Regions from separate parts of the Homo sapiens genome. Here region 2 is linked to region 1. Evidence: fine-mapped expression QTL. A gene starts in region 1. The other region holds a variant in brackets. All regions are shown on one strand. Distances are between the middles of the regions. Region 1 holds the start of ZKSCAN1 (zinc finger with KRAB and SCAN domains 1). Region 2 holds the start of GAL3ST4 (galactose-3-O-sulfotransferase 4).

Region 1 (16,164 bases):
GTGATTCAGCAGTCATCATTCAGGCTCCAGGAACTGACTTGATCCAAACAGGGTCTGTGCTCACCTTTATGTCCTGGGAGGTTTTATGATGTGTTTCTTTACTATTCCTGAAGTATAAAAAAAAAGTCATTAGTACGTACCTTTACAAAAAGTGATCTGTGCTGCTAACACTTTATAGGAGGCAGCACATCGAGGCACTATCAGAACGCTCCTGAGGCCGGGGGTGGTGGCTCACGCCTGTAATCTCAGCACTTTGGGAGGCCGAGGCAGGCCAATCGCCTGCGGTCAGGAGTTCAAGACCAGCCTGGCCAACATGGTGAAACCCCGTCTCTACTAAAAATACAAAAGTCAGCAGGGCATGGTGGCAGGCGCCTGTAATCCCAGCTACTCGGAAAGCTGAGGCAGGAGAAACGCTTGAACCCAGGAGGTGGAGGTTGTAGTGAGCCGAGATTACGCCACTGCACTTCCTACCTGGGAGACAAGAAGTTAAACTCCGTCAAAAAAAAAAAAATCCTGACAAATCGAGGAAAAAACTGTACAATCTCCACTGTCACTTCATATATCAAGATTTGCAAACAGAAACCTCAAACAGGCCGACTCCACCCTCAGGGTGTTTGCTTGGAGTCAGAGTGATTTACCTGCAGGTTGACAGCAGGTTACGAAATGGAGCATTAACAGTGCCCAGCCCAGAGAGCTGAATGTTAGCAGAGTGCCAGGTGCCAGGCTTAAAGCAGTACACGCACCATCTTCTTTTGTCCCTACAACAGCCCTAGCAGGTCGGCCAAACTGTTAAGTGCTGTTTTACAAATGACATAACTGAGGGTTAGGTTTGCTCAGTAGTAGGTGGCTGCCTACTGGAGTCAATATTCAACCAAATTTGAAGCCCTGGGACCTACTTTTGTACCATCCAGCTACTTTTGCTATTTTTATGAGTGACTTGGGCAGTTAAATTGTGGTTTCCAAAGTACAAGATGATCCGCAAAGGATACAGAAAGAAAATAATTGGAATGTCTGTATCTTAAAAGAGAGAGAAATTAAGCTATAAATTGACACTAATACACTTACTTAGTCTGTGCTGACCTGTCACAGGTGTTGTTCATTTTAGACATTGTGATGTAGACTGGTTTATCTGAGACCAGTTATGTGAAATAATGGATTTCTAAATCTAGCTTTGGCTGGGCGCAGTGGCTCATGCCTATAATCCCAAAACTTTGGGAGGCCAAGGCGTGCGGATCACGAGGTCAGGAGATCGGGACCATCCTGGTCAACATGGTGAAACCCTGTCTCTACTAAAAATAGAAAAATTAGCTGGGCGCGGTGGCGGGCACCTGTAGTCCCAGCTACTTGGGAGGCTGAGGAAGGAGAATCACTTGAACCCAGGAGGCGGAGGTTGCAGTGAGCCGAGATCGCGCCACTGCACTCCATCCTGGCCACAGAGCGAGACTCTGTCATAAAAGAGACAAGCAGCTTTAAAGATTCTTGTGGCCAGATATGGTAGCTCATGCCTATAATTCCAGCCCTTTGGGAGGATGAGGCAGGAGGATGCTTGAAGCCAGAAGTTTGAGACCAGCCTGGGCAACATAGCAAGACCCTGTCCCTATGAAAAAGAAAAAAATTAGCTGGGCATGGGGACTGTGTCTGCAGTCACAGCTACTCAGGAGGCTAAGGTGGGAGGATTGCATGAAACCAGAAGTTTGAGGCTGCAGTCAGCTACGATCACGCCACTGCATTCCAGCCTGGGTGACAGAGCAAAGCCCTATCAGGAAAAGGAAAAAAAAAAAAAAAAAGATTCTTATAGAGAAACTGCAATTACAGGACACACTAATAATATAAACAGATGTGAACAAGAAGAAAATGGCACAGATGAAGCTTCTATCTAGAGTAAGGTTTTAGCCACATTAGGAGGTAAAAACCAATGTCAGTCTAAATCAAAGAAAAAGTCACCAATGAGTAATCAGCTTCTTTAAAGAAAGTGTGAAGAAAGGGCAATTACAGGAACAGCTGTATGAAATGGTTCCATTGTTATGTAATTTAACTGCCAAAAATGATGTCAAGTATCCAGGAAAAACCCATCTATGTTCACATTTTAGAAACTTGGGGCTGGGTGAGGTGGCTCATGCCTGTAATACCAGCACTTTGGGAGGCTGAGGCAGGGAGCAGGGGGCCACCTGCGGTCAGGAGTTCAAGACCAGCTTGGCCATCATCGTGAAACCCCGTCTCTACTAAAAATACAAAAAATTAGCTGGGCATGGTAGCAGGCGCCTGTAATCCCAGCTATTTGGGAGACTGAGGCAGGAGAATCGCTTGAACCCAGGAGGCTGAGGTTGCAGTGAACTGAGATCACGCCATTGCACTCCAGCCTGGGTAACAAAGTGAGACTCCATCTCAAAAAAAAAAAAAAAAAAAAAAGGAAAAAAAAAAGAAACTTGGAAATATTTTCTAACCTGTTTAAAAATCTTTCAAATGAAGAATTTCAGGTGGGTCTTAAGCCTATTTGTTAAAAATATAAAATGCCACCACCTGATTAGTTTGTAAGACTATACCCTGCATTTCAACAACAAAAATTCAGCATGGTTGATAGGTTGGATCAATCACAAGTTACTAAGCAGAACTGACACTGTGATTCTTCCATCTGAAGCTACAAATCTTTCTGAATTTATTCTTTTCACCTCTACAGCCATCAAAACTAAGCATCAAATTGAAGTTTTAGAAACAGACCATTAAACTGCTTTATCATGATGGGTTAAACCGAGTTTTAAACTAGCAAAAGCATTTTTAGTTTTATGGCTCTCACTAAACATATTCTTAATTTTGGTGAAAAAGGGATCATGTACATATAACAGCACAAAAATTATATATACATATATATTGAAACGGAGTCTTGCTCTATCGCCCAGGCTGGAGTGCAATGGCATGATCTCAGCTCACTGCAACATCCGCCTCTCGGGTTCAAGTAATTCTCCTGCCTCAGCCTCCTGAGTAGCTGGGATTACAGGCCATACTTATTTTTTTTAATCTAGTTCCATGAAGTCCAGCTTCCTTTCTTTGGTTCCCTGCCTTCATTTTCTCCCTTCTCTCCCACAATCCACCTTTCAGATTATTCTTTCTAAAACTCTACAGCCTTGCAGTTAATACTTTCCAGTGCCTGGTCCCAATTTTCCCTCAAGCTTCTTTTCCCATCAATCCCCCCATAAACCTTCCCTATGCAACAAAAGCCCTCTCATCAGTATTTCCTATATATGCCTTGTATTTTGACTGCCATCCTTTCCTCACATCACACTCCATGCCTGGGACTTCCCCCCGCAGTCCTCTCTGCCTTTTCAAATCCTACTTAACCTTTAAAGCTAGCTAAAACGCGACTTGCCTCTTATCACTGTTCAAGAACCCTCTCATAACTATAACAGTAAGAGCCAATGTTTACTGAGTGCTTTCTAGGTACCGGGTATTTAAGCATTTTCACTTGACCACATAACAATCTTAGCAGGTAGCTACACTTATCATCTCACTGTATAAAGAACTGAGAGGCTGAGCGCAGCGGCTCATGCCTGTCATCCCAGCACTTTGGGAGGCCAAGGCAGATAGATAACCTGAGGTCAGGAGTTCGAGACCAGCCTGGATAACATGGCAAAACCCCATCTCTACTAAAAATACAAAAATTAGCCAGGTGTGGTGGTGCAATGCCTGTAGTCCCAGCTACTCGGGAGGCTGAGGCAGGAGAGTTGCTTCAACCTGGGAGGCGGAGGCTGCAGTGAGCTGAGATTACACCACTGCACTCCAGTCTGGGCAACAGAGTGAGACTCCATCTCAAAAAAAAACAAAAGAAGAACTGAGATATACTGCCATTAAATAACTTACTCAAGGTCACACAGCAAGTATATGGTAGAGGCAGAATTTGAAATAAAAGTGATTCCCCAATGTAAACTCTTTAACCATTATACAAAATTTATCTTGTACCTGACATGTGGGGTATACAGATCCTAAAATGAAGGCCTATGAACGTGACAATGAAGAATCAATCAGGGCCAGGCACGGTAGCTCACGCCTGTAATCCCAGCACTTTGGGATGCCAAGGAGGGTCGATCACCTGAGCTGAGGAGCTCGGGACCAGCCTGGCCAACATGACGAAACCCCGTCTCTACTAAAAATACAAAAATTAGCTGGATGTGTGGCACATACCTGTAATCTCAGCTACTCGGGAGGCTGAGGCAGGAGAATCACTTGAACCTGGGAGGTGGAGGGTGCAGTGAGCTGAGAACGCGCCACTGCACTCCAGCCTGGGTGACAGAGAGAGACTCCTTCTCAAAGAGAAAAAAAAATCACTCAGGAACGGGCCTTATCTACCACCCAGTTTTCACTGGAGGGTCACTATGTGACTGAAGCCCTTCCTGGGAAAGGGAGGAGACACAGCAGAAGATTCAAGTGGGGACTGTCTACAACATAACCAGGTGGGATCTTCAAACATGGTAACTGAGCAGAACTAGTGTGATAGCGAGCCCAGCCACCAGAAATCCCTACTTTTGTGAAAGTTTTATCCTGCCTTAGCTATTGAGCAGGACACTTCTTGGGTCAGTGCGAAGATGCGACTCTAAGGAGGAAATGAGTCCAGGGGGAAATAGACACAGACATGGGCACATTCCCTCTGCCCACAACTGGGACAGATCCTCCTCCTCACCTTCAGTATCTCTCTGCTCCTACTCTGGGGTGCAGGGAAAAGCCATCACAGCAGTGGAAAGGCTGGGTTTTATTTGAGGTTTCCCAGATGATCTGAGCACATACTCTTCTGTCTCTAAAGGCCCTAATACTCTTCACCAAACATTTGCTAGGTAATTTCTCATGATGCGCCGGGCGCAGTGGCTCATGCCTGTAATCCTAGCACTTTGGGAGGCTGAGGTGGGCGGATCACGAGGTGAGGAGATCGAGACCATCCTGGTAACACGATGAAACCCCGTCTCTACTAAAAATATAAAAAATTAGCTGGGTGTGGTGGCGGGCGCCTGTAGTCCCAGCTACTTGGGAGGCTGAGGCAGGAGAATGGCGTGAACCCGGGAGGCTGCGATTGCGCCACTGCACTCCAGCCTGGGTGACAGAGCGAGACTCTGTCTCAAAAAAAAAAAAAAAATTTCTCATGATGTTTCTTTCTCTGTAATTTTTCTTGCCTTCTTCCTCAACTAGATTATTAAGAGCAGTCCTCTTTGTACTCCTTAGACCACTTAGCATGATTCCTTGCAAGCCTCAGTTTCAAAAATACACTTGACTGAATTGACAACGTTACTATTTTTTAAAAGCCCGATCATTCTACATTCAATGTTGCACTCAAATTTGTTCCATGGACTAGTTGGATGAGTTTCAGGTTAGCATTAAAGCTGCTCCACCCCTTACTAGTTGACGGCCTTAGGCAAGTCAACAAGTTAACCTCTCTATGCGTCAGTTTCCTCATCTGTATAATGGGAATAAAAATCAGCATTTGTCCCATAGAGTTGCCGTGAGGATTAAATGAGGTAATAGATATAAAGCACTTAAAATAGTGCCTGGCATTTAGTAGGCACTACAGAAATGTCTTAATTTTTTTCAATAAGCTTAAAAGATGTAACTGTACATTCCAATTTTCAGCCTGCTTAGAAGATTAAGCAATGGGACAACTCCTGTAATAGTGAAAGCTGCACAGGCAATAACTGAATTCTAGTCTCCCACAAGTAAGTGGCACATCCCTGAGAGAGGTATTTAACTTCTCTGGCATTTTGTATCTTTATCAGTCAAATGGGGGTAGGGTGGGGGTTCCAGATAGTAGGAAACTACCTCTGGGTGAATATGGGCTGAAAAACATACTGACATACCATCCACTTTAAATAAAATTACCTCCAGCAGCTAAGGATACCTCAGTTCTCACCTAGGATAAACAGAAATGATTTTCTTAAACAACGGCTTGAAGTTACAAGCTCAAAGGCTGTGTTCCAAACAGCCCAGTATTTTTCCAGGGCATAGTCTTGAAAATGTAAACAAAGGCTGGGCACACAGTGGCTCACGCCCGTAATCCCAGCACTTTGGGAGGCTGAGGTTGGCGGACTGCCTGAGATCAGGCGTTCGAGACCAGCCTGGCCAACATGGCGAAACTCTGTCTCTACTAAAAATACAAAAATCAGCCAAGCCTTGGGACACATGCCTGTAGTCCCAGCTATTCGGGAGGCGGAGGCAGGAGGATCGCTTGAACTCGGGAGGCAGAGGTTGCAGTAAGCCGAGATCGCACCACTGCACTCCAGCCTGGGCGACAGAGCAAGACTCTGTCTCAAAAAAAAAAAAATTTTTTTTTAAATAAATTGCCCTTTGCCCTTTACACTCATTTTTTTAAAGAGCAATCAAATGTTTTAATATGAAAAAGCTACCTTAAAAGACAGCTAGCTATTCAAAGAATATTGATACTCCCACAGAATGAAAATGTTAGATTTAATATGCTATTCATCTGTATTTTAAATGCTTTTAAATCGAGAATGAGCAAAAGACTAAGTAGCTAGCTTCCTCGTTTGTATTTTAAGAGTGGTGAAAACTGCCTGAAATAATAAACAAGAATCTTATATGTTAATTCAGAGAAGATACAAACCTGGATACACATTCTGGGGCAAATCACCATGGTTTCCTATGTAAAACAGCGATTTCTCCACATTTGTTCAGCATATATACTAACAGTGCTTTGCTGATGTGGTTACAATGAATTCTCCACAATTCAATTCAACAAGTATTTATTGACCGCCTCCAATCCGCCTAGCACTGGCCCGTACAATAAATGCTTTCTTTGGTCCCAGGCCATGGAACAGCCACTCTCTATAATGAAAGTATCTTACTGTGTACAGGGGGCACTGCAGGAAAGGGAGGGGAGGGATGGAGGAGTGTCAAGCTAAACTGTAGTTAATTCTTCAATTACATTGACCAAATCATTTCGAAGTCGGAAGGGCCTTTTGAGAAAATCCAGTTAGTTTTTATTGATGACGAAATTAAGACTTGGTGAGTGTCTCGTCTTATCCAAGGTCACTCAGCTAATCAGTCTCCTAGTGACACAGTGCAATTTCCACAAATTCCCTTCACTTCTCACCCCACTCCATGTCAAACAGAGCAACTATCCAGAATTGAAAAATCCACCTAACGTCCCGGACAGCTCTTTTCCAAAGCCTTCAAAGCATTCCATCAAGCTGAAAGAGTGGGGTGTATATAATCTCTACTAGATCCCAATCACCTATTTATCCACTATGACTAGGCTTCAAATACTCTTTAATCACCGCTCAGTGATGAGGGTGGGAGAAGGAAAGGCAGGTCTGGAAACGTATGCGGCACCTCAAAATGTGTCCATCTCTCATCCTTCCGCTCATTTCACCTCGAGGTCCCGAAGGAACCGGGGGGGGAAAAAGACACCTCACCGGAATCAAAGCAAATGGCGACTAAGGGAGAGCAGAAAAATCAAGACCGGGGTCGGTTCGCTCGCGACCCCGTTTGCAGAAACGTCAAAGGGCGATGACGACACTGCGGGAGAGGGGCCCACAGACGGCTTCTCCCCGGGTCTCCGGGCACCCTCAGCCACTGAAACCCTCGCCCCCTCCCCGCCTGATCCTGGGGGTGGGGCGGGGACGTCTCCCAGGAAGAACGGCGCTTTCTACGGCCGGGCCCGGCCAGGAGGCAGGGGCATGGACTCTCTTCGCACAACAGCGGGGCCGCCTGGAGGGGGTCCCAGGGCCGCAGCTGCGGAGCCCACCCTCGCGCACACACCCTTGCGGCCCCGCCCTCCCACCCCAGAGGCCGGCCCCAAGTCTCACCGTGAGCCCCGGGAGCGGCCTGGGGGCGCTGGGCGAGAAAGGGGAGCTGACTCTGGGGCTCAGGCCGGCCGAAGGGCACCGCACACGGACTTAGGCCCTCCCGACGCCTCGACACAGACACAATGAGTCACAAAGGCCGGAAGCGTGTCACCACCTCGTCTTCCGGGACCGCGCCGCGCTTCCGGGTCCTCTCTAGGAGCGCGGGAGGACTTTGCATCTCGGTTTCCGAATCGCTGGACCAGGCGCCTGCCCTTGAGTTTTCAAGCCTCCAGCTTGGAGGATCAGGTCCCAGTCCGCCCCTAGTTAATGCAGGGACTAACGGGAGCAGGTGGTGGGGGGTTTCAGGCTTTCCCCTACTCAAACTCAAACAGACTCTCCAGCTCAGACACCAGTCCATGTGAAAGTTCGATTTCACCTGTCTTTTTCATCTCAGGCAGTCCTTGTAGTAATTATAGTTATTATCAAGCAATATAGTACTTGGTAATTGTATGTCTGTGGCAAAGGAACTGAAACAAGGATGTAGACTGAGGAAGATCAAAGTGAAGCCAAGGGTGGCTGGTTTCCCAAAGCTGCCACGGTAGCTTCTCTCAGGGCCCTGGAGCTATATGGAGTGGTATTTTCAAATACTTGGCCCGTGGACAAGGGATGTCTTTCCACAAGCAAGCATAGTTATAAGGTTCTGTGCTTTGCTCATGTGGCATATGCTATTATAGCCGTTTAAAAGGAGTTTTCAGAGTAACAACAGACACTTTTACCTTCAAAGTGCTTTCACAACCTACCACAGTTACAGCCTTCATCTTTGCCTTGCAGGGTAAGGCACGCATAAGAGGGGGCCACGTTGTGCAAGGGTGGGGGGGACTACAGGCTTTAATGGTTGTGACTTTCCACTATGTTCCGAGACAAGTTCATGGGAGAAACTCAGTAGCTTGGTTGCATGACTCTTACTGCTTGGAGAGATTTACTTTTTTTTTTTAGATGGAGTCTCGCTCTGTCACCCAGCCTGCAGTGCAGTGGCACCATCTTGGCTCACTGCAACCTCCACCTCCCAGGTTCAAGCGATTCTCCTGCCTTAGCCTCCTGAGTACCTGGGACTACAGGCGCACACCACCATGCCTGGTTAATTTTTGTATTTTTGGTAGAGAACAGGGTTTCACCATATTGGCCAGGATGGTCTCGATCTACTGACCTTGTGATCCACCCGCCTCAGCCTCCCAAAGTGCTGGAATTACAGGCGTGAGCCACCGTGCCCGGCCAGATTTACTTTTTAAAAAATGTTTGAAAACTAAAAAGCAATGACAGGGCCAGACACGATGACTCAAGCCTGTAATCTTAGCACTTCGGGAGGCTGGGACGGGAGGATTCTTGAGCCCAAGAGTTGGAGACCAGCCTAAGCAACGTAATGAGACCCTCTCTCTACAAAAAATACTAAAATTAGCTGGGTGCAGGGTAGTGTGTGCCAGTGGTCCCAGCTGCTTGGGAGGCTGAGGTAGAAGGATAGATTGAGCCCAGGAGGTTGAGGCTGCAGTGAGCTATGATTGTGCCATTGCACCCCAGTCTGGGCCACAGAGCAAGATCCCATCTCAAAAAAGAAAAAAAGGGCCGGGCACGGTGGCTCATGCCTGTAATCCCAGCAGTTTGGGAGGCCAAGGTGGGTGGATCACGAAGTCAAGAGATTGAGATCATCCTGGCCCATATGGTGAAACCCCGTCTCTACTAAAAATACAAAAATTAGCTGGGCGTGGTGGCACACGCCTATAGTCCCAGCTACTTGGGAGGCTGAGGCAGGAGAATCGCTTGAACTCCAGAGGCGGAGGCTGCAGTGAGCCGAGATCGTGCCACTGCTCTCCAGCCTGGGGACAGAGCTAGACTCTGTATCCAAAAAAGAAGCAACAACAGTATCATTAAAGGAAATTTGCAAAATGGAGAAAAATAATTACCGGTAATCTCTCCACCCTAACACAATCCCCATGGCTTTAGTTTACCTTTTTCCTGTTTTCATATACAAATAAATATTTATTGATATTATTTTAAACACTGTTCAAAACCATAGTTGCAGTTGTATTGAAGAGGAGGCTGGTATCCTGGAAGTATCTGCTACATTCATATCATGTGAACACTGTTTTTTAAGGAAGAGAAAATATATTTACTATTCAGTAAGTGGAAATAGATCATCATCAAGGTCTTCATACTCATCGTCTTCACACTGAGTAAGCTGAGGAGGAAGAGGAAGGGTTGCTCTTGCTGTCTCAGGGGTGGCAGAGGCAGGAAGTGATCCACCAGCCTCGGCCTCCCAAAGTGCTAGGATTACAGGTGTGAGTCACTGCACCTGGCCTCTTTTCTTTCTTTTTTTTTGAGAGAGTTTCCCTCAGTTGCCATGTTGGAGTGCAATGGCGTGATCTCAGCTCACTGCAACCTCCGCCTCCTGGGCTCAAGTGATTCTCATGCCTCAGCCTCCCAAGTAGCTAGGATTACAGGTGTGCACTCACCATGCCTGGCTAATTTGTGTATTTTTAGTAGAGATGGGGTTTTACCATGTTGGCCATGCTGGTCTCGAACTCCTGGCCTCAAGTGATCCACCCACCTCAGCCTCTCAAAGTGCTGGGATTACAAGTGTGAGCCACCGCGCCTGGCCTCGACATCTTTGATTACTTCCTAAGGATGGATTCCAAGAAATGAGATTACTGGTCCCACAGATAGTCAGAGGGAATATAGGCAATAACGTTTGTAACCCCAGGGTTCTAGACCTGTCAGCAAACAAGCTCAGCTGACAAGATCAGGTGGTATCCACCCAAGAGTTTTGAAAGGACTCTAAGATGAAAGTGTTGAAAGAATCATGAAACTAATGATTTATGATTACAAAGAGACATTGTGCTTAAAAATTGGCTGGCTGCCCTGAACAAATAAAAGTTCCTGAAGGGCACCCTAGAAACTGTGGTTGCCTAAGTTTGACTTCTGTGTTGTGAAAGCTGGTGGAGTCAATGCTGAAGGGGAGCCCGGGTTTGCGGCTGTGACTGGGTGGCTGCAGCTACTCCTGGGAGGGAGGGTCTCCTGTCCCTCCAACTTGGAAGGAGTGGGGGCTTCCATGTGTTCCCAGCTCCCTCCAGCTCTGTGGAGTGCTGCGATCCCAGCTATGCCTCACTCACTGCAGCCAGCATCATGGCAGTGGCCACTCCAGATGGGGTGCTGCTGCCAAGGCGGGCAGATCACCTGAGGTCAGGAGCTCGGGACCAGCCTGACCAACACGGAGAAACCCCGCCTCTACTAAAAATACAAAATTAGCTGGGCATGGTGGTGCATGCCTGTAATCCCAGCTACTCAGTAGGCTGAGGTAGGAGAATCGCTTGAACCCAGGAGGCAGAGGTTGCGGTGAGCCGAGATTGAACCATTGCACTCCAGCCTGGGCAATAAGAGCGAAACTCTGTCTTAAAAAAAACAAAACAAAACAAAAAAAACAAACCCAAGTCTTATATCTGATTCCAAAGGTCCCATTTTACTGAGTCTTCTTCTTTCTTCTTGACGGAGTTTTTGCTTTTGTCACCGAGGCTGGGATCACTGCAACCTCCGCCTCCCAGGTTCAAGCGATTCTCCTGCCTCAGCCTCCCACGTAGCTGGGATTAAAGGCGTGTGCCACCTGCCTGACTAGTTTTTGTATTTGTAGTAGAGATGGGATTTTGCCATGTTGGCCAGGCTGGTGTCGAACTCCTGACCTCCAGCGATCCGCCCACCTCGGCCTCCCAAAGTGTTGGGATTATAGGCGTGAGCCACCGTGCCCAGCCTGAGTTTTCTTTACTGTCGGCTAGGGCTGTGGCTGGGGAACCTGCTGTGGGAAGGGTACTTTCATCTATGCTTTTCCTCCTCCCCTTCCCTCTCCCTGGGGTGGCAGGAGTGAGTGATCTGACTGTTGGAGACACCTTCCCTCTCTATTTTCCTATTGGAAGCTGTGGCTTCTCTGTTGTGTTGAGCAAAGTGGACGGATAGGGAGAGGGTCAAAAATCTCTTACTTAACTGACTATTCTCTCCTGTTGGTTGTTGCTCTTCCCTCGGTAACACAGTGTTCCAGCTACTTAAGCAGCAAAACAAATTATTCAACAATTTCGTGGGTGAAAGCAATGACAACATTGTTTATTTTGCTCCTAAATCTTCCATTTGGTGGAGGGATCCACATGGATGGCTCATCTATGCTCCACCTGGCTCCTCTGGGGGGCCTCAAAGGTTGGACCATCTGAAGGCTCGCCAGCTCCTAAGATTGGTGATTGGTCTGGCTGTCAGCGGAGATCTTAGCTGGGGCAGTGGATCTGAACATGTGCAGGTGGTCTCTTCATGTGCTCTGGGCTTCCTCACAGGATGGTGGCTGGGGTCCAAGGACAAGTATCCAGAGAGAGAGAGAGGAGGAAGGAAGGAAGGAAGGAAGGAAAGGGAAGGGAAGGGAAGGAAGGAAGGAAGGAAGGAAGGAAGAGCAGGTGAGCGGGCAGGCAGGTAGGGAGGGAGGGAGGAAAGGAAGGAAGGAAGGCAGGGAGGGAGGGAGGGAAAGAAGGAAAGGGGAGGGAGGGAAAGAAGGAAAGAAAGGGAGGGAGGGAGGGAGTGAAGGAAGGAAGGAAAGGAAAGGGAAGGGAATGGAAGGGAGGGAAGGAAGGAGGTACGGGAAGGAAGGAAGTGGAGTGGGTGACAGAGAGACAGAGGGGACAGGTGAATGAAGGCCACATGTCCTTTATAACCTAATCTTAGAAGCACTCAGCATCCCTTTCACTGCATTCAATGCCTTGAGGCAGTCATAAAGTCACACCTAGTTTCAGGGGAAGGGAAAATATGTTCCCCCCTCTTTTCTTCTTTTTTTTATGACACGGGGTCTCACTCTTGTCACCCAGGCTGGAGTACAATCATGACTCGCTGCAGCCTCGACCTCCTGGGCTCAAGTGATCCTCCACCCTCATCTTCCCGTGTAGCTGGGACTACAGGCATGAGCAACTATGCCCGGCTAATGTTTAAATTTTTTTTGTAGAGATGGGGGTTTCACTATGTTGCCCAGGCTGGTCTCAAACTCCTGGGTTCAAGCAATCCTTCCACCTCAGCCTCTTGAGTAGCTGGGAGTACAGGTGCACGCCACCACACCCAGCTAATTTTATTTTATTTTTTGTTAGAGATGGGGTCTCACTATGTTGCCTAAGCTGGTCTTAAACTCCTGGGCTAAAGGGATACTCCTGCCTTGGCCTCCCAAAGTGCTGGTTTTACAGGCACCATGCCTGGCGATGCCACCTTTTTTTTTTTTTTTGAGACTAAGTCTCACTTTTGTCGCCCAGGCTAGAGCGCAGTAACGCGATCTTGGCTCACTGCAACCTCCACCTCCCGGGTTCAAGCAATCCTCCTGCCTCAGCCTCCTGAGTAGCTGGGATTACAGGTGCCTGCCACTGTGCCCGGCTAATTTTTGTATTTTTAGTAGAGACGGCCATGTTGGCCAGGCTGGTCTTGAACTCCTGACCTCAGGTGATCTGCCCACCTTGGCCTCCTAAAGGGCTGGGATTACAGGCGTGAGCCATGGCACCCAGCCAGATGCCACCTTTTGATGGGAAGTGATGTGGTTCTGGAATTGCATGTGGGACCAAAAACGCTGCCAAGGTCACTTTTGGAAAACACAGTCTACCGCTACTGTGCGTCAGCCACACAAACGTTGGCTTGTGGTGTTCAGGGATGAAATCCTCAGGGGGCCTTGGGGGCCTGCTTACTACTCAGTCCCCTGTCCCAGTCGATCTGCCTTCTGCCCCTAGCAGGGCACTGCACAACCTCCTTTTGAGGAGATTCTTGGGTGGGGGCACCAGTTGGACAACTCAAGTCCAGCTACCTGCTCCTGGGTCCATTTGATCTGTGACAAACTCAGGCACCCTTGGCCACTCAAATGGCTGGAACGTGGACCTCCTGCGGTGCTCCTGCCCCTCCCTGGCCACCTTCCCCTCTTAGTGAATGGAACGTGGACCTCCTGTGGTGCTCCTGCCCCTCCCTGGCCACCTTCCCCTCTTAGTGGCTTTGTTGAATCACCCGCCACCTGCCTAGGCACGAGAGTCTCCTATTTAAAATAATGCTCAACTAGAGGTTGAGGGTTTTTTTGTTTTTGTTTTTGTTTTTGAGTCTTGCCCTGTCGCCAGGCTGGAGTGCAGTGGCGTGATCTCGGCTCACTGCAATTTCCGCCTCCTGGGTTCAAGTGATTCTCCTGCCTCAGCCTCCTGAGTAGCTGGGACTACAGGCCTGTGCTTCCACACCTAGCTAATTTTTGTATTTTTAGTAGAGATGGGGTTTCACCATGTTGGCCAGGATGGTCTTGATCTCCTGACCTTGTGATCTGCCTGCCTCGGCCTCCCAAAGTGCTGGGATTACAGGTGTGAGCCACTGTGCCTGGCCGAGGATGAGGTTTTTTGTAGATATGGAGTCTCCCTGGTGACTGGGATTCCTGCCCGCCCTGCCCCCTGCTCTTTTTTTTTTTTTTTTTGAGATGGAGTCTCCCTCTGTTGTGCAGGCTGGAGTGCAGAGTGCAGTGGTGCAATCTCAGCTCACTCCAACCTCTGCTTCCCGGTTCAAGTGATTCTCCTGCCTCAGCCTCCCCAGTAGCTGGGGTTACAGGTGCATGCCACTACGCCCAGCTAATTTTTTGTATTTTCAGTAGATATGAGACTTCTCCATGTTGGCCAGGCTGGTCTTGAACTCCTGGCCTCAAGTGATCTGCCCACCTCAGCCTCCCAAAGTGCTGGGATCACAGGTGAGAGACACCGCACCCAGCCTCTGTCCCCAGGTTTTGAAGACATTCTCACTTGTCTTCATGGTGAGGGGGCAAGGGAACCAGTCATGGAGGAGGAGAGGGAAGCCCCCACCAATAGGCAGAAGGCAAAGTCCTTTCTCTTTGGCTTCTACCAAGTCCTTTCTCTCTTTCTTGCTGCTTTCGTCCAGACTTGAGGAGCAGAAAAACTGGCTGAGCAAGCAAAGCTCGCGAGCGTTTCTGCCTGTCACGTAGGTGGCATCTGGGATCTTTGATGTGCCGTGCTGTGGGCTGGGAGTGTCCTCCTGAAGTTTTTCCTTCTTTGTTCTCAGCTATGGACTCCAGCCACGGACAACAGAGTCCTAGCCCACGTCCAGTCACATGACTGCAAAAGCACCTGCGTCTGGATACGGATGTTTATGAGAACATTGGTGCCTAATCAAATCAAATCAAAACAAACCAAACAGCCCCTAGCCTTGTGGCCTCATTCCCAAGTCAGCCCAAGCCATATCCTTCCTAGCTATGGTGTATAGTAGAGGGGCGCAGGACTCAGATGGTCTTGGTTCTCATCTTGTCTGTACCATGTACTCTTGGTCTAGTTACTTGAACTTTTGGAGCCTCAGTTTCTCTAAGTGTAAAATGAGGATTCAAACAGCACCTACCTCATTGGGATGTCATGAGGCTTGCATGATGGAGTTGATTCATGTAAATCAGCAGTTGCAGGGTCTGGCATTGGACACAGATGAATTTAGGGCTGTGGGCTGTTGACTGACCCTTGGGCTTGAGTGACATGTGTGGCTCCATCCTGAAGCTCTTTTCTAGCAGTGCTGAGGTGGGAGGAGGGACTTGACTCTGCAGGTGGGGCTTGGACAGTGGACCAAATTGAGGATTAGCTAAAATGGGGCCAGGGCAGAAGCAGCTTTCCATAAGACATGCCCACCAGAGTGCCATGTCAGTTTACCGTTGCCATGGCAACACCCGGGAGTTACCACCCCTTTCCATGGCAATGAGCTGACAACCTAGAAGTTACTACCTCTTCCCTAGTAATTTCTGCACTAACTGCCCCTTAATCTACACGTAATTAAAAGTAGGTAGGCCAGGTGTGGTGGCTCACACTCACACCTGTAATTCCAGCACTTTGGGAGGCCGAGATAGGTGGATCACTTGAGGTCAGGAGTTCGAGACCAGCCTGGCCAACATGGTGAAACCCCATTTCTACTAAAAATACAAAAATCAGCCGGGTGTGGTGGTGCACGCCTGCATTCCCAGCCACTCCGGAGGCTGAGGAATGAGAATCGGTTAAGCCCAGGAGGCAGACGTTGCAGTGAGCCAATATCGCGCCACTGTACACTGTACTCCGGCCTGGGCAACAGAGGGAGACTCTGTCTCAAACAAAACAAAACAAAACAAAACCCCAAAAAACAAAAAATAATCTATGGTGGTGCTGAATGTAGACAGAGAAGAGCCAGTGTGGTTGTTCACGTCTGTAATCCCAGCTACTCGGGAGGCTGAGGTGGGAGGAGGGCTTGAGCCCAGGAGTTTAAGACCAGCTTGGGCAACACAGTGAGACTCCATCTCAAAAAAAAAACAAACAAACGAAACAAAAACAAAAACAAAAAACCA
Region 2 (16,164 bases), 150 kb before region 1:
GGCCTCCATACCCTCCTAGAAGGGATGGTTCTGGGGGCAAAGGAGGAGGTGGCAGTGCCCGCTACAACCAGGGCCGGAGCAGGAGTGGGGGGGCATCTATTGGTTTTCACACCCAAACCATCCTCATTCTCTCCCTCTCAGCCCTGGCCCTGCTTGGACCTCGATAACGGGGGAGGGGTGCCCTAGCATCAGAAGGGTTCATGGCCCTTTCCCCTCCTCCCCCCTCAGCTGGGCCTGGGGAGGAGTCGAAGGGGGCTGCAGAGAGGGTAGAGAAGGGACTTTGCAGGTGAATGGCTGGGGCCCCAAATCCAGGAGATTTTCATCAGAGGTGGGTGGGTGTTCACAATATTTATTTTTTCATTTGGTAATGGGAGGGGGGCCTGGGGGTATTTATTTAGGAGGGAGTGTGGTTTCCTTAGAAGGTATAGTCTCTAGCCCTCTAAGGCTGGGGCTGGTGATCAGCCCCAACAGAGAAAATGAGGAGTTTAGAGTTGCAGCTGGGGAAGGGGTTTGAAGGAAGTTGGAAGTGGGGAGGGGTGGGGGCATCTGGTCTCAGAAATGGACCAGCTGGATGCAGGGCAGGGGACTGAGGGTGCTTGAGTAGGATGTGAGACTTCATGGGCCTGGGTTCTGTTGAGTTTTTTCAGTATCAATTTCTTAAACCAAATTTTAAAAAAAACAAGGTGGGGGGGTGCTCATCTCGTGACCTCTGCCACCCACATCCTTCACAAACTCCATGTTTCAGTGTTTGAGTCCATGTTTATTCTGCAAATAAATGGTAATGTATTGGACCCCATGTGTGGCTTCTGTGCTGTCACCATCAGTGCCTGAGCCCTGGCTCCTAGCAGAGGTCTCAGAGCCTCTGTGACTGGCTCATTTTCTGCCGGCTTTTCACTTCCCTTGGCACCTGTCCCCCAGGAGGCGGGCCTAGACAATAACCTCTGATCTCCAAATTGCCCACCCTCTGGGCCTCTGAGCATCTTCGTTTGTACAACAGGGAGAATTGTGGGGACCAAATAGAATCTGTGTGAAAAAGCACCTTGTCACCTGCAAAATGCTCTTTGAACATGAGGCTTTTTTTTTTTTTTTTTTGAGATAGAGTCTCGCTGTTGTCGCGAGGCTGGAGTGCAATGGCGCGATCTCAGTTCACTGCAACCTCCGCCTCCCCAGTTCAAATGATTCTCCTGCCTCAGCCTCCTGAGTAGCTGGGATTACAGGCGCCTGCCACCACAGTCAGCTAATTTTTGTATTTTTAGTAGAGACGGGGTTTCACCATGTTGGCCAGGCTGATCGCAAACTCCTGACCTCAAGCGATCCACCAGCCTTAGCCTCCCAAAGTGCTGGGATTACAGGCGTGAGCCACCGCACCCGGCCACGAAGCATTATTAAGGTGACCACACCACTGCCCCCTGCCTTCAGGATGGGAGGCCTTGTTCTCTGAGTGTCAGTCTCTGGCTACCTTGCCACGTCCTTGACAATGTCTGCTTTCAAATATCACTTTCTCCTTCCTTCCTTCTTTCTTTCCACCGCCTGAATGAATCTTTTGTTCTGCGGCAAGCCAAGAGAAAATGGTAGGATTGATTCCCAAGTGTGAAAGCGGGGGCGGAAGTGGTGTCTTCCAAGAGGAGTCTGGGTGCCCTGCCGAAGAGGGGAAGATGCAGCGAGGGAGAGACCTAGAACCGCGATCAAAGCTGCAGCAGCTGCTGGGGCTGGCGGCACAAAGGGAGGAGGGAGGAGCCTGGGCGCTGAGAAAGTTCTTGGGGAAAGTTGAGCTGAGCCAAGAGTCGGGCGGTGGCTGGGATGGGCGGGAGGGCCCGGCCCGATTTCCCTTGCTGCTCCCCTTGTGGCCTGGTGAGTGGGAAGTGAAACCAAGGATAGGACCAGTGGAGGGACCCTCTAATTTATGGGAGGAGACATGAGGGGTTCATGGAACCCCAGCGGGGGCAACTGGGCAGTCACCAAAGCTGGAGGGGACAGAGGGCTGGGATCTCCAATCATGGGAAGGGAGAGATGGATGGAAGGAAATGAAGAACTCTGGATAGGGGAGACGCGGCTAGACCCCAGGGGCTGTGATCAGGGAGGGAATTGGGGAGTGATGCCAGAGAGGGCAGGTCTCCGGGAGTAAAAGTGTGGCTTCTCTCTGCTTGGGGTTACCCCTGGCTCATCGGAGCAGGGAGCTGTCGGGGCTTGTTGGAGGGGCCGTGGTCCCTGATCGCGAGTTGTAATCTGAAGGGGCGGGGCTGGACTCCCGGTTGATTAGGAAGCTCGGGCTTCAGAAGGAACTCTGCAGTTAGTGTTTGCGCCTTTCTCCTTATCTTTGTGTCATAGTCTCTCTGTCCCTCTGTCTCTCTCTCTCTGTTTCTCTGTGTGTGTGTGTGTGTGTGTGTGTGTCTCTCTCTCTTTCTGTCTCCCTCTCCAGCCCCACCCTTTCAGTCTCCTCCGGGTGCACTGATAAGGTTGGAAAGTGGAATGGTGGGTAAGTCCAGGGATCTGGGCTTTATAAGTAGCCACACGTCTCCCCCAGCCCCTGTCATACATGGGGGTCTGCCCCGTGCTGAGACAGAGAAAAAAGAGGCGCGGGAATTTATAACCCAATGGCTCTTACCCATTGCAATGCCACTCCTGGAAGTCCAACCTCCCTTCCTCCTGCCTGGGTTCATACACCTGTGTCCTGTCTGATCCTCATTCCCACTGTATGGCTTCCCTTCCTGGTCCTGGGATAGGGCTCTTTATCCCCATCTGTGACAGCCAGAGGGGCTCTGGAGGAAACCAGGTTCCCGACCATGGTCTGACCTGACTGTGTTAATGAGCTGATTGATCTGATCTCTCTCTCTCTTGCTGGCTGTTTCATTCACGAGCTGGGGCTTTTTCTCTCCTTCCCTTATAAATCCCCAAGGCTCAGGGACAACTGTAGGTGGGGAGCGGGAGGAACTGGAGATAAGAAAGTGATAGAGCAGAGACAGTAGTTGTGGGGCCACCTAGGAGAGTCTGGGTATAGACAACATCCCCAGCCACTCCCCTTCCCTGAAGGAGGTCTCAGCTGCAGCAGGAGAGAAGGCTGCCTCTGCCTCTCTCCTTAGACTTCCCTTCTTCCCCCCTCATTTCCCTTCTAGACGCTGACAGAGGCAAAAATCTGCTAACTCAGGGGGCAGACTCAACCAAGACTGTGAGCAGGCCTGGGGAATGACCCCCCGATCTCCAACCAGTGCCTTCCGCAGCTGCACGGCTGTCTCCAGCTGTCTCTGCCCCTCTTCCTGGCCCTGGCTCCATCTCTCTGTCACCTCACCCTTCCCTGTGCCACATGGGCCCTCTCTCTCCTGCCAGGACGCTGCGGCTCTGGGGACCTCGGAGCCTGGGGGTGGCTCTGGGAGTCTTCATGACCATTGGCTTTGCACTCCAGCTCTTGGGAGGGCCCTTCCAGAGGAGGTGAGTTCCCACTTTGCCCCAACTCCTTCTAGACGCCCCGTACTTGCTCTTCCCCATCCCACCTGGGGCTGGTGACTCCTGAGGACTCAGAAGCCTCCATGCCCTCTGTCCCTTCTACCCATTTGCTGCTGAGGAACAGGACACTCCCCCTCCATCTCTTCCCAGGCTACCTGGGCTACAGCTCCGACAGCCCTCGGCCCCATCCCTACGACCAGCCCTTCCGTCCTGCCCACCCCGGCAGCGACTGGTGTTCCTGAAGACACATAAATCCGGGAGCAGCTCTGTGCTGAGCCTGCTTCACCGCTATGGGGACCAGCACGGGCTGCGCTTCGCCCTCCCTGCCCGCTACCAGTTTGGCTACCCAAAGCTCTTCCAGGCCTCTAGGGTAAAAGGCTACCGCCCACAGGGTGGAGGCACCCAGCTCCCCTTCCACATCCTCTGTCACCACATGAGGTTCAACCTGAAAGAGGTAAGGAGTGTCGCAGTGGTGGGAGGGACCAGAAACAGATGGGCTCAGGCTGACACCACCAAGGGAGGGGGCCCAGACCTGGGGGCTCCCCAGGCATCATCTCACCCTAAAGTTGGACATAGGGGCCACAAAGTTGGGCTCCCTGCCATCCTCTCTACAGGTGTCCCTTCCCCAGTAGTTTCTGGGAGCCCAAGTCCTCCTCCCTTCTCTCTCTGGCGCTTACTCCAGTCTCTCTCTTTCACCAATGTATTTCCCTGGCATCAGTGCCTTGCCAACTCTGAGCCCCCAACTCTCCCTCCAGGTGCCCCTTACTCTTCTGTTTTTAAATTATTTTTTGGAAGACAGGGTCTTACTCTGTCGCCCAGGCTGGAGTGCAGTGGCACAATCATAGCTCACTGCAGCCTTGACTTCCCAGGCTCAAGTGATCCTCCCACCTCAGCCTCCTGAGTAGCTATGGCTAAGGCATGTGCCACTACACGTGGCTACTTTTTAATTTTTTGTAGAGATGGGGTCTTGCTATGTTGCCCAGGCTGATCTCAAACCCCTGGGCTTAAATAAATAAATAAATAGTCCTGGGCTCAAGTGATCTGCTCACCTTGACCTCCCAAAGGGTTGGGATTACAGGAGTGAGCTTGCCCAGCCTGTGTGTGTGTGTGTGTGTGTGTGTGTGTGTGTGTGTGTGAGACAGGGTCTCATTCTGTCATCCAGGCTGGAATGCAGTGGTACAATTATAGCTCACTGTAACCTCAAACTCCTGGGCTCAAGCGATCCTCTCACCTCAGCCTCCCAACTAGCTGGGACTACAGGTGCATGCCACCACACCTGGCTATTTTTTTATTTTATTTTTTGTAGAGATGGAGTCTCACTATGTTGCCCAGGCTGGCCTCAAATGATCCTCCCACCTCAGCCTGGCAAGTACCTAGGACAACACGCCCCTTCCCTTTCTTAGCCTCCCTTTCACTGTCACACCAGGGCCCCACCTCCCCCACTGCCTTCTGACTTGTCTTCTTCAACCCCCTCACATTTTGAGGATCAGCTGTATTTTTAGCCCGGGACTAAGCCCAGCACTTTGGGAGACCAAGGTGGGCAGATCACCTGAGGTCAGAAGTTCGAGACCAGCCTGGCCAACATGGTGAAACCCTGTCTCTACTAAAAATACAAAAATTAGCCAGGCGTGGTGGCACACGCCTGTAATCCCAGCTACTCGGGAGGCTGAGGCAGGAGAATTGCTTGAACCCAGGAGGCAGAGGTTGCAGTGAGCCGAGATTGTGCCACTGCACTCCAGCCTGGGCAACAGAGCGAGACTCCATTTCACAAAAGAAAAAAAAGGCCGGGCGCAGTGGCTCACGCCTGTAATCCCAGCACTTTGGGAGGCCAAGGCGGGTGGATCACAAGGTCAGGAGATCGAGACCATCCTGGCTAACACAGTGAAACCCCGTTTCTACTAAAAATACAAAAAATTAGCCGGGCATGGTGGTGGGTGCCCGTAGTCCCAGCTACTCAGGAGGCTGAGGCAGGAAAATGGCATGAACCTGGGAGGCGGAGCTTGCAGTGAGCTGAGATCGTGCCACTGCACTCCAGCCTGGGTGACACAGTGAGACTCTGTCTCAAAAAAAAAAAAAAAAGGAAAGAAAGATAAATAAATAAAATTGAAAATTAAAGTGGCAGAGCTGGAAGTTGAGCCCAGGTCCATGCACTCCAAAGTCGAGGCTTCTTCCGAGGCTTGTGCATGTGTTTGTATCTGGAATGGTGAGAAGAATATTCACCAAAGAGGTGATGCTTTCTGGAGAGGGGGGTTTATTTTACTTTATTATTTAATTTTGATTTTTATTTTATTTATTTTGAGACAGAGTCTTGCTCTTTCCCCTGGGCTGGAGTGCAGTGGCACGATCTCAGCTCACTGCAACCTCTGCCTCCCGGGTTCAAGCAATTCTCATGCCTCCCAAGTAGCTGGGACTACAGGCACCCGCCACCACGCCTAGCTAATTTTTGTACTTTTAGTAGAGACAGGGTTTCGCCATGTTGACCAGGCTGGTCTCAAACTCCTGACCTCAAGTGATCCGCCCACCTCAGCCTCCCAAAATGCTGGGATTCCAGGTGTCAGCCACCGTGCCCAGCCGAGAGCGGGGGGTTTTAAAGGAAAAGGTGGATGTGGCTTGTGGTAAGGACAGCATGAGGCATTCTTAGAGGGAGCAAAACACCAGCAAGGACATGGTGGGGTGCACGTGTGTGTGTGCATGTAAGAGGGAGAACGTCTGTACTGGGGGTAGAAGTTCCACAGGGGCTGCAAAGTCACCCTTGTTGAAGCTGGAGCTGGAGACACCAGCTGAGGACATGGGCGTGCTCTGATGGGCAGCGAAAGGCCACTGCCAGGAGTGAGGCAATGACAGTGACCTTTGAGGTAGGTTTCTCCAGAGGCTAGGATGATGGCCTTCACTGACGCCACCATTCACTGAATACCTACCATGTTCCAGACACTTGCACATTCTTCCAGGTAAGTGTTACCCAGTTACTCAGATTTCTAGATGGAGGAATGATGGCTCTGAGACCTTCAATAACCCGCCCAAAGTCACAGAATTAGTAAATGGCAGAGTGGGATTTTATTCCAGGTCCAGATGCCAAAGACTGTTTTCTTCGCTTTCCCCTCTGCCTTCAAAGAGACCTGCAGGGCCAGGCATGGTGGCTCATGCCTGTGATCCGAGTGTTTTGGATGCTGAGGTGAGAGGATTACTTGAGCCCAGGAGTTCAACGCCAATCTGGGCAACATAGCAAGACCCCATCACTACAAAAAAATTAAAAATTAACAGGGAATGTTGGTGTGTGCCTGTAGTCCCAGCTATTCAGGAGGCTGAGATTGGGGAATCCCTTGAGCCCAGGAGTTTTCAAGGCTGCAGTGAGCTATGATATGCTGCCTAAGTGACAGAGCAAGGAGACACTGTCTCTTAAAAAATAGTAAGAAGAAAATAAACACTGAAAAGCTAAAATGCTCATTTCCTGTCCTCCCCCTCAAAAAAAAAAAAAAAAAAGAGAGTTCACAGGCTGCTATTCAGGTGTGCCATACTTGCAGAGCCGATTGAGGAACACCATGACAGACAGAAGTCAGATTCAATGATGGAAGTCATTTTTGGAGGCAGAAACCCTTCAAGGAGACTAGGAGCTAGGTTCTGACCTGCATCAGCCTGCAGGGCCACGTTAGGGTGTGGTGCAGCCTGATCTCCACCTTCATTCTTGCAGAGCGGTGTAATCACGTGTCCCAGCCCTCAGGGCAGCATCCTACCAGGCAGCCGTGGCTTCCCAGTGTCCCAGCCCAGGGTGTTTTTTGCCCTCTAGGATGCCCAGGAGACCCTGAAGTGCTTTACCCCTCAGCCATTCTGGGCCTGGCCTGCCCACCTGCTGCCTATGCCCGAGATGGCATTATAGTTGCTCCTTTGTTGCCAGTGATGCCCCCTCCCAGGCACTCAACAGGTTTTTGCTGGAGAAATGAGTACAAAGGTTGGTTCCTAGAGGTTTTACTGACCAAGGCAGACAGAAATGCCCGAGGAAATTAATGTTCTCCAGGAGTTTCCTATCCTCCAGGTTTCCGTCCCTCCCTTCTTTCTTTTTTTTTCTTTTTCTTTTTTTTCCCTTCCTTTTCCTCCCCTCCCCTCCCCTTTAAAATTAGTGCCCGGCTAATTTTTAAGTTCTGGGATACATGTGCAGAATATGCAGGTTTGTTACACAGGTATACATGTGCCACGGTGGTTTGCTGCACCTGTCAACCTGTCATCTAGGTTTTAAGCCTTGCATGCATTAGGCATTCATCCTCATGCTCTCTCTCTCTTCCTTTGCCCCTGACCCCGACAAGCCTCTCCTCTTCCCCCTCTCCCTCCCCTCTCCCCCCTCCCCTCCCCTCCCCTCCCCTCCTCTTCCCTTCCCTCCTTCCCTCTCTGGCTGCTTCTTTCTTTTTTTTTTTTTTTTGAGACAGAGTCTCACTTTGCTGCCCAGGCTGGAGTGCAGTGGCGCGATCTCGGCTCACTGCAACCTCTGCCACCCAGCTTCAAGCGATTCTCCTGCCTCAGC[C/T]TCCTGAGTAGCTGGGATTACAGGCGCCTGCCACCACGCCTGGCTAATTTTTATAGTTTTAGTAGAGATGTGGTTTCACCATCTTGGCCAGGCTGGTCTTGAACTCCTGACCTTGTGATCCACCCGCCTCAGCCTCCCAAAGTGCTGGGATTACAGGTGTGAGTCACTGCACCCGGCCCCTTTCTTTCAAGGCAGGGTCTTGCTGTGTTGCTCAGGCTTGTCTTGAACTCCTGGGCTTAAGCAATCCTACCACCTCAGCCTCTTGAGTAGCTGGGACTACAGGTGTGTACCAGGATACCGCGCTAATTTATTTTTATTTTAAGTTCTGGGATACATGTGCAGAACATGCAGGTTTGTTACATAGGTACACATGTGCCCTGGTGGTTTGATGCACTGATCAACACATCATCTAGGTTTTAAGCCCTGCAGGCATTAGGTATTCATCCTAATGCTCTCCCTCCCCTTGCTCCCCACCCCGACAGGCCCCAGTGTGTGATGCTCCCCTCCCTGTGTCCATGTGTTCTCACTGTTCAACTCCCACTTACTTATGAGTGAGAACACATGGTGTTTGGTTTTCTGTTCCTGTGTTAGTTTTGTTAGTTTACTGGAGTAGGTTAGTTTGCTGAGCATGATGATGGCTTCCAGCTTCATCCATGCACCTGCAAAGGACATTATCTCATTCTTTTCTATGGCTGCATAGTATTCCATGGTGTATATGTGCCACATTTTATTTATCCAGTCTATCATTGATTGACCTGCTAACTTTTTTAGTTTTTTTTTTTTTTTTTTTGAGACAGAGTCTTGCTCTGTTGGCCAGGCTGTCAAGTGCAGTGGCACGATCTCAGCTCACTGCAACCTCCGCCTCCTGGGCTCAAGCAATTCTCCTGCCTCAGCCTCCCGAGTAGCTGGGATTACAGGCGTGTGCCATCACACCTGGCTAATTTTTTTGTATTTTTAGTAGAGACGGGGTTTCACCATGTTGGCCAGGCTGGTCTCGAACTCCTGACCTCAAGTAATCCGCCCGCCTCGGCCTCCCAAAGTGCTGGGATTACAGGCTTGAGCCACCATGCCCGGCTTTTTAGTTTTATTTTTGTAGAGACAGGGTCTCGCTATGTTGCCCAGGCTGGCCTCGGCAACATAGCAATGCTCAAGCCATCCTACTGCCTCAGCCTCCTGAGTAGCTGGGACTACAGGCACACAAAACATGCCTGGCTCCATGCTCCAGATTTCTTGTATGTTTTATCTCATGTATCTTTCATAGTCACTTGAGAAAGTATGATTATCCCCATTTGCAGATAAGCAAATTGAGTCTCAGAGATGTTAAGTAACTTGCCACTCAGCAAGTGATGGAAGCTGGGGATTCCTAGCAGAGCTGGGAGGAGGAGGTTTCAGGAGGCTGGTCAGCGGACACATGGCTTGTGCATACTTATGCATACCTTCTCCCCAGCCCAGTTCTCTCTCTTCTGTCTTCCCTCCTCTGCAGGTACTTCAGGTCATGCCTTCTGACAGCTTCTTTTTTTCCATTGTCCGAGACCCAGCGGCTCTGGCTCGCTCTGCCTTCTCCTACTATAAATCCACCTCATCAGCCTTCCGCAAGTCACCATCTTTGGCTGCCTTCCTGGCCAATCCTCGAGGCTTCTACAGGCCTGGGGCCCGTGGGGACCACTACGCTCGCAACTTACTATGGTTTGACTTTGGCCTGCCCTTTCCCCCAGAGAAGAGGGCCAAGAGAGGGAATATTCATCCCCCCAGAGACCCCAACCCCCCACAGCTGCAGGTCTTGCCTTCTGGTGCTGGCCCTCGAGCCCAAACCCTCAATCCCAATGCCCTCATCCATCCTGTTTCCACTGTTACTGATCATCGCAGCCAGATATCAAGCCCTGCCTCTTTCGATTTGGGGTCTTCATCCTTCATCCAGTGGGGTCTGGCATGGCTGGACTCTGTCTTTGACCTGGTCATGGTGGCTGAGTACTTCGATGAGTCATTGGTTCTGCTGGCAGATGCCCTGTGCTGGGGTCTAGATGACGTGGTGGGCTTCATGCACAATGCCCAGGCTGGACATAAGCAGGGCCTCAGCACTGTCAGCAACAGTGGACTGACTGCGGAGGACCGGCAGCTGACTGCACGGGCCCGAGCCTGGAACAACCTGGACTGGGCTCTCTATGTCCACTTCAACCGCAGTCTCTGGGCACGGATAGAGAAATACGGCCAGGGCCGGCTGCAGACAGCTGTGGCCGAGCTCCGGGCTCGCCGAGAGGCCCTAGCGAAACATTGTCTGGTAGGGGGTGAGGCTTCTGACCCCAAATACATCACTGATCGCCGGTTCCGCCCCTTCCAGTTTGGGTCAGCTAAGGTTTTGGGCTATATACTTCGGAGTGGATTGAGCCCCCAAGACCAAGAGGAATGTGAGCGCCTAGCTACCCCTGAGCTCCAGTACAAGGACAAGCTGGATGCCAAGCAGTTCCCCCCTACCGTCTCACTGCCCCTCAAGACTTCAAGGCCACTCTCCCCATAAACATCAGACTACAGATTTAGGTGGAAGAGCAGCCATGTTTGAAGGGCACATGTGATGAGTGGGGGGCAGCAAGATGCCATTTCTGCATCTCCCAGAAGGGATGAGTCTTTGTCCCGATGCAAGCCCCCTCTTCGCTGGGCTCCCAGCAGTGCTTCCCTCCTCCACCCTCCACTCATTTTGTTCTTTCCCCCCAACTTTTTTTTTTTTTGAAACGGAGTCTTGCTCTGTCCCCCAGGCTGGAGTGCAGTGGCATGATCTCGGCTCACTGCAACCTCTGCCTCCCAGGTTCAAGCGATTCTCCTGCCTCAGCCTCCAGAGTAGCTAGGATTACAGATACGTGCCACCATACCCGGCTAATTTTTATATTTTTAGAGACAGGGATTCAACATGTTGGTTAGGCTGGTCTTGAACTCCTCACCTCAGGTGATCCACATGACTCTGCCTCCCAAAGTGCTGCCATTACAGGCGTGAGCCACTAGGCCTGACCTCCCCTTCCCCTTTCCTGCCCCAAGGCAGATCCACATCACCGAAGCTCCCTAGAGGGGCAAAAGATGGAGTGAGCCACAGGAAGTTTGGGGCGTGGTGAGTTGGAATGATACGTCCATTTCTCTATGAAATATTTGCTACTAGACTGTTCATTTCTCTCTGACATGTTTGTTGAATGAATAAATAATTTGAAACTTCTACTTGATTTATGGAGGGTGGAAAGGGGAGGGATGGAGAATCTTCCTGGGAGAAGTGGGGTTGGAAGGGTTGTTTTTTTTTTTTTTTCCGAGACAAGATCTCACTCTGTCACCTAGGCTGCAGTCCAGTGTCCCAATCATAGCTCACTTCAGCCTCAAACTCCTGGGCTCAAAGGATCCTCCTGCCTAGGCCTTCTAAGTAGCTGGGAATACAGGCGCGCGCCACCGCGCCCGGATAATTTTTAAATTTTTTGCAGAGAGGAGTTCTTGCTATGTTGGCCAGGGTGGTCTTGAACTCCTGGCCTCAAGCGATCCTGCCGCCTCGGCCTCCCACAGTGCTGGGATTACTGGCGTGAGCCAACCCGCCTGGCCGACGAGGTCTTCCATTTCTTTTCCAAGAAGCCTGGCCGCAGCCCCCGCCTGCATTCTCGCAGCCTCAGAGCAGCGGGACCCCGCCCCCTCCTCCACGGTCCGGGCACCCGCAGATTCCGGGGCCTCGGCGGCCACGCCCCCTCCCTTCCGCTTCCTGTTTCTCTCCAGTCATTCGGCTCAGTACCCCGGTTCCGGCGCTGCCGGGTCTCGGTTCGGGTTCGTTGCCCCGGTGCCGGGACCGGGCCGGTCTCTCCGGCCGCCCCAGCCGGGCGCAGCAGCCGGAGGTGTCGGGACCCTCTGGACCCACCCTAGCGGGCCCCGCCGGCGGTCGGCCTCCGGTCCGGGCTCCCAGTCGCGCCGTCCTCGCCGCCCCATGGAGTCCCAGTGCGACTACTCGATGTACTTCCCGGCCGTGCCGCTGCCGCCGCGCGCGGAGCTGGCAGGGGATCCGGGCCGGTACCGGGCGCTGCCCCGGCGCAACCATCTGTACTTGGGGGAGACTGTCCGTTTTCTGCTGGTGTTGCGCTGCCGGGGCGGTGCGGGGTCCGGCACCGGGGGCGGCCCGGGCTTGGGCTCCAGAGGAGCCTGGGCAGAACTGGCAACCGCCCTGGCCGCCCTGGCCTCGGTCAGCGCCGGAGGCGGGATGCCGGGGGGCGGCGGCGCCGGCGACCAGGATTCGGAGCCCCCAGGGGGAGGGGATCCTGGGGGTGGGGGTTTGTTCCGAGGCTGCAGCCCCCTTCTCACCCACGGCCCGGGCCCTGCTACCTCAGGGGGAGCGACCACGGTGAGGAGCTTTGGGGGACCTGGCACAGGACGGAGGGGCGGTTTGCTGGGGGCCTGAGGCAGGAGGCAGATGAACTGCCGGTCTTAAAGGGAAAGGCTGCAGGCTGCCTCTGACTTGCTCCTGACCTCTTCACCCCTTTCCCAACCCCAGCTGCCTGTGGAGGAACCGATTGTGTCCACAGATGAGGTCATCTTCCCACTCACCGTTTCACTGGATAGACTGCCCCCAGGGACACCTAAGGCCAAGGTAAGATGAGCAAGAGTGGAGCTATTGTCCTAATTCAGACACCTTTTCCGGGCTCAGCCATCTGTCTTTCCTCTTGACAGATTGTAGTGACTGTGTGGAAGCGGGAGATTGAGGCACCAGAGGTCAGAGATCAAGGCTACCTGCGATTGCTGCAGACCCGATCTCCTGGGGAGACATTCCGGGGCGAGCAGAGCGCTTTCAAGGCCCAAGGTGGGCAGGGCAGCGCAGAGGCAAAGGGCTAGAGTCTGGGAATTGGGGGACAGAGGGGAGGGGTCACACTGGAAAGTGGCTAATGGGCTCTGAGAAGAGGAAGGTGAGAATTCTGGGTTGGAGGTGAGGTCAGCCTCCAGACCATCACTTCTTGCCCCCACCCCCTCCCGCAGTGAGCACGCTGCTGACTCTGCTGCCCCCTCCGGTTCTGAGATGCCGGCAGTTCACTGTGGCTGGAAAACACTTGACCGTGCTCAAGGGTAAGCAGGGCTGCCGGCTCCAGCCTCCGGGAGCAACAAGGGAACTGATTGGATGCAGTTCCTCTGGGCAGGCTGGTGGGGTAGGTCCGGTTTTTTCTGGGTAAAGGTGGGGCCTGAGGGGTCCAGCTATTCTGAGCCAAGCTGGTCCTCTCCCACAGTGCTGAACAGCTCCTCTCAGGAGGAAATCTCCATCTGGGATATCCGAATCCTCCCCAACTTCAACGCCAGTTATCTACCTGTCATGCCCGATGGCTCTGTGCTGCTGGTGGACAATGTCTGGTGAGGTCCTGGGAGGGGCGAGGCTGTGAAGTGGTGGGGATGGCTTCAGGGGCTGAGCTCTGGCATGGGGAGACCATGCCTTGTCCTCTTTTCTGAGCTAGTCACCAGTCTGGGGAAGTCTCCATGGGCTCCTTCTGCCGCCTACCCGGGACCTCTGGCTGCTTCCCCTGCCCGCTGAATGCCCTGGAGGAACACAACTTCCTGTTTCAGCTGAGAGGGGGTGAGCAGCCCCCTCCAGGGGCCAAGGAGGTGAGCATAAGGGGCTGGTGTGTTCAAAGAAAAGTGATAAGGCAGTGGGAGGGAAAGACCAGGCAGCTGACTCAAGATGGGAGGGGCACTCTTAATACCTGTGCCAACCCCCTTTGTCCCTCCTGCAGGGCCTGGAAGTTCCCCTGATTGCTGTGGTTCAGTGGTCTACCCCAAAGCTGCCCTTCACTCAGAGCATCTACACCCACTACCGGTGAGTGTGGATCCTGGAGGAATCGTGGCGTTCGCCTTTGTGGCCTGACACACACAGCCAGCATCCCTCTCTCACCACTCCTAGCCTGCCCAGTGTCCGCTTGGACCGCCCGTGTTTTGTGATGACCGCTTCTTGTAAGTCCCCTGTTCGGACCTACGAGCGTTTCACTGTCACCTACACGCTGCTTAACAATCTCCAAGACTTCCTTGCTGTGAGGCTCGTGTGGACCCCAGAGCATGCACAGGCTGGTAGGTCAGCTGCCAGGTAGGAATTTGGTCCCCAGGGAGGGGAAGAGAAAGGAAAAAGTCAGGGAGGCAGGACAGTGAAAACAGCCAAATTTGGTGCCAGCCCCATCACAGGAGGCGACTTGTGGCAGGTGGCTTCCGCCCTGTACCTGGGTGGTCTCCCCAGTGTCCTAGATGGAGAGTTTAGAGAGGCAGTGGGGCAGAGTGACTTTCAGGGCATAGACACTGGAGCTGCACTCGCTGGTGTGAACTCTACTTCTCTCCTTTACTAGCTGTGTGACCTTGAATAAGTTACTTAACCTCTCTGGGCCTCAGAGTCCTCACCTTTAAAATAGAGCAACTCATATCTGATGGGGCTGTCATGCAGATACTGAGTTAATATACGTGACGTGCCTTGCACACAGTACGTATTAGCTGTTGTTATCTACAACATGCACAAAAGATAACGTTTGCTCAGTTTACTCCACAGAGTGGCTTTGAGAATCAGATGAGACTGTGCTGGCGAAGGCCCTGTGGGAATGAGGAACGCTGTAGTGTTTGCTGGTCCCTGTTTCTGCCCCCAGGAAAGCAGCTGTGTGAGGAGGAGCGCCGGGCCATGCAGGCTGCCCTGGACTCCGTCGTCTGCCACACGCCCCTCAACAACCTTGGCTTTTCCCGGAAGGGCAGCGCGCTCACCTTCAGTGTGGCCTTCCAGGCTCTGAGGACGGGGCTCTTCGAGGTGGGCTGGGGAGGGTCTGGGCTGAGTGCTGAGTGATGCAGAATGCTGGGGTGGACGGAGGCAGGACCCTTAGATTTTGGGGATGAAATAAAAAGCTGGGCAGAGGGAAGGTGGGATTTAGATTTGACATCAGTCTGTCACATGGGGAAGACCATTTGGAAGGAGGCCTGGGTCCTGGAAGCCGAGCTGGCATGCTGACCTGTGTCTCCCCCCAGCTAAGCCAGCACATGAAACTGAAGCTGCAGTTCACCGCCAGCGTGTCCCACCCTCCACCCGAGGCCCGGCCCCTCTCCCGCAAGAGCAGCCCCAGCAGCCCTGCTGTCCGGGACTTGGTGGAGAGGCATCAGGCTAGCCTGGGCCGCTCCCAGTCCTTCTCCCACCAGCAGCCTTCCCGAAGCCACCTCATGAGGTACAGAACCAGGGGGCGTGGCATGGGACCGGGTAGAGGATGGGAGCAGCGAGGGTGCCGGGTCTGACCAGCGCCCACAGCCTCTGCCTTCCCCCAGGTCGGGCAGTGTGATGGAGCGCAGAGCCATCACGCCCCCTGTGGCCTCTCCTGTTGGCCGCCCCCTCTACCTGCCCCCGGACAAGGCTGTGTTGTCTCTGGACAAGATTGCCAAGCGCGAGTGCAAGGTCCTGGTGGTGGAACCCGTCAAGTAGCACCGTGCCAGCTCTGTTCCCTCTTACACTCCAGAGACCCAACGCCCCCAGAGGGGATCCCTGCTCCCGGGCTGTGCCTCCCCTGGGATGCCTCCCAGACGGGGGTGAAGAGGCCTGGCAGAGCTGCCTGTCTTGTGTCTGCTGATGAGGGATGGGGGAAGAAGCTGTGAAGTGGGCGGGCATGGCTGGGACTAAGCCACCAGTATTCCCCGAGTTCCTGTGGGGGGGGCTGGCCCCACCCCTAGGCCAGGGCAAGGGTTCCCAGAGCTCCCTTGTCCCCGGCCCTTTACCCTGGTTCTGAGTTTACAAAGTCTCTTCCTCATTCCCGTTGAGTTCTTTCCCACCTCTGACATTCCCTCCCTCCCTCCCGCAGGGCTGAGATTAGAGGGTGGTGATGGCTAAGGGCCCCTGACAGTGACCTTCCTGTCTCAGGGGTTGGGGACAGGGCCAGGTAGCCTCCTGCCCCTTATGTTTACGTTTGCAGCCTGAAGCACTTTAATTTTTTTTTTTTTGGTCTGTTCCTGTAACTTATTTTCCAACTATTGCTTCCAACTGAAATAAGACTATTAAATGCCTGTTCAGGAGGGAGAAGGATGACTAGTTTGTGTACTGATGGGAAGAGCAGAGGTCGCCAGGGCTCAGGGTGACTCCCTTCCCCTCCAGCTTTTTCTGCTTCCCAGTTTTATAGCACACAGAGGTGGCCCTGCCGCACCCAACTTGGGCTAAGGTGCATGACTTTCTCCCCAGAAGGTGGAAGACAGACATGGGGTGTAACCAT

The links. PIP is the estimated chance that this variant, and not a neighbour inherited with it, causes the effect.
Region 2: its variant is fine-mapped to the expression of ZKSCAN1 in whole blood (INTERVAL, PIP above 0.99).

Annotation. Positions count from the first base shown.
Region 1 is chr7:100,007,362-100,023,525 of GRCh38, reverse strand. ZKSCAN1 (zinc finger with KRAB and SCAN domains 1) reads right to left here and starts at 7,930. Exons shown (of 6, transcript NM_003439.4): 1 at 7,800-7,930; 2 at 1-107. The coding sequence starts at 19. It overlaps LOC105375423 (a long non-coding RNA gene), which reads right to left. Exons shown (of 3, transcript NR_159960.1): 3 at 11,892-12,150. RefSeq lists a silencer at 7,675-7,844 and enhancers at 13,105-13,604, 15,322-15,822, 15,823-16,164.
Region 2 is chr7:100,154,233-100,170,396 of GRCh38, reverse strand. It overlaps GAL3ST4 (galactose-3-O-sulfotransferase 4), which reads left to right and starts at 1,780. Exons shown (of 4, transcript NM_024637.5): 1 at 1,780-1,851; 2 at 3,114-3,426; 3 at 3,592-3,895; 4 at 9,438-11,153. The coding sequence starts at 3,302. The coding sequence ends at 10,469. It overlaps TRAPPC14 (trafficking protein particle complex subunit 14), which reads left to right and starts at 11,674. Exons shown (of 11, transcript NM_018275.5): 1 at 11,674-12,308; 2 at 12,459-12,554; 3 at 12,635-12,764; 4 at 12,938-13,024; 5 at 13,183-13,303; 6 at 13,405-13,552; 7 at 13,681-13,763; 8 at 13,848-14,011; 9 at 14,572-14,726; 10 at 14,942-15,135; 11 at 15,233-15,974. The coding sequence starts at 11,898. The coding sequence ends at 15,386. It overlaps GPC2 (glypican 2), which reads left to right. Exons shown (of 10, transcript NM_152742.3): 10 at 1-791. The coding sequence ends at 167. It overlaps MIR4658 (microRNA 4658), which reads left to right and starts at 13,728; the gene lies at 13,728-13,792. RefSeq lists an enhancer at 9,594-10,093 and silencers at 11,540-12,179, 12,210-12,359, 12,391-12,567. The variant C/T (reference allele first, on the strand shown) is at 7,955.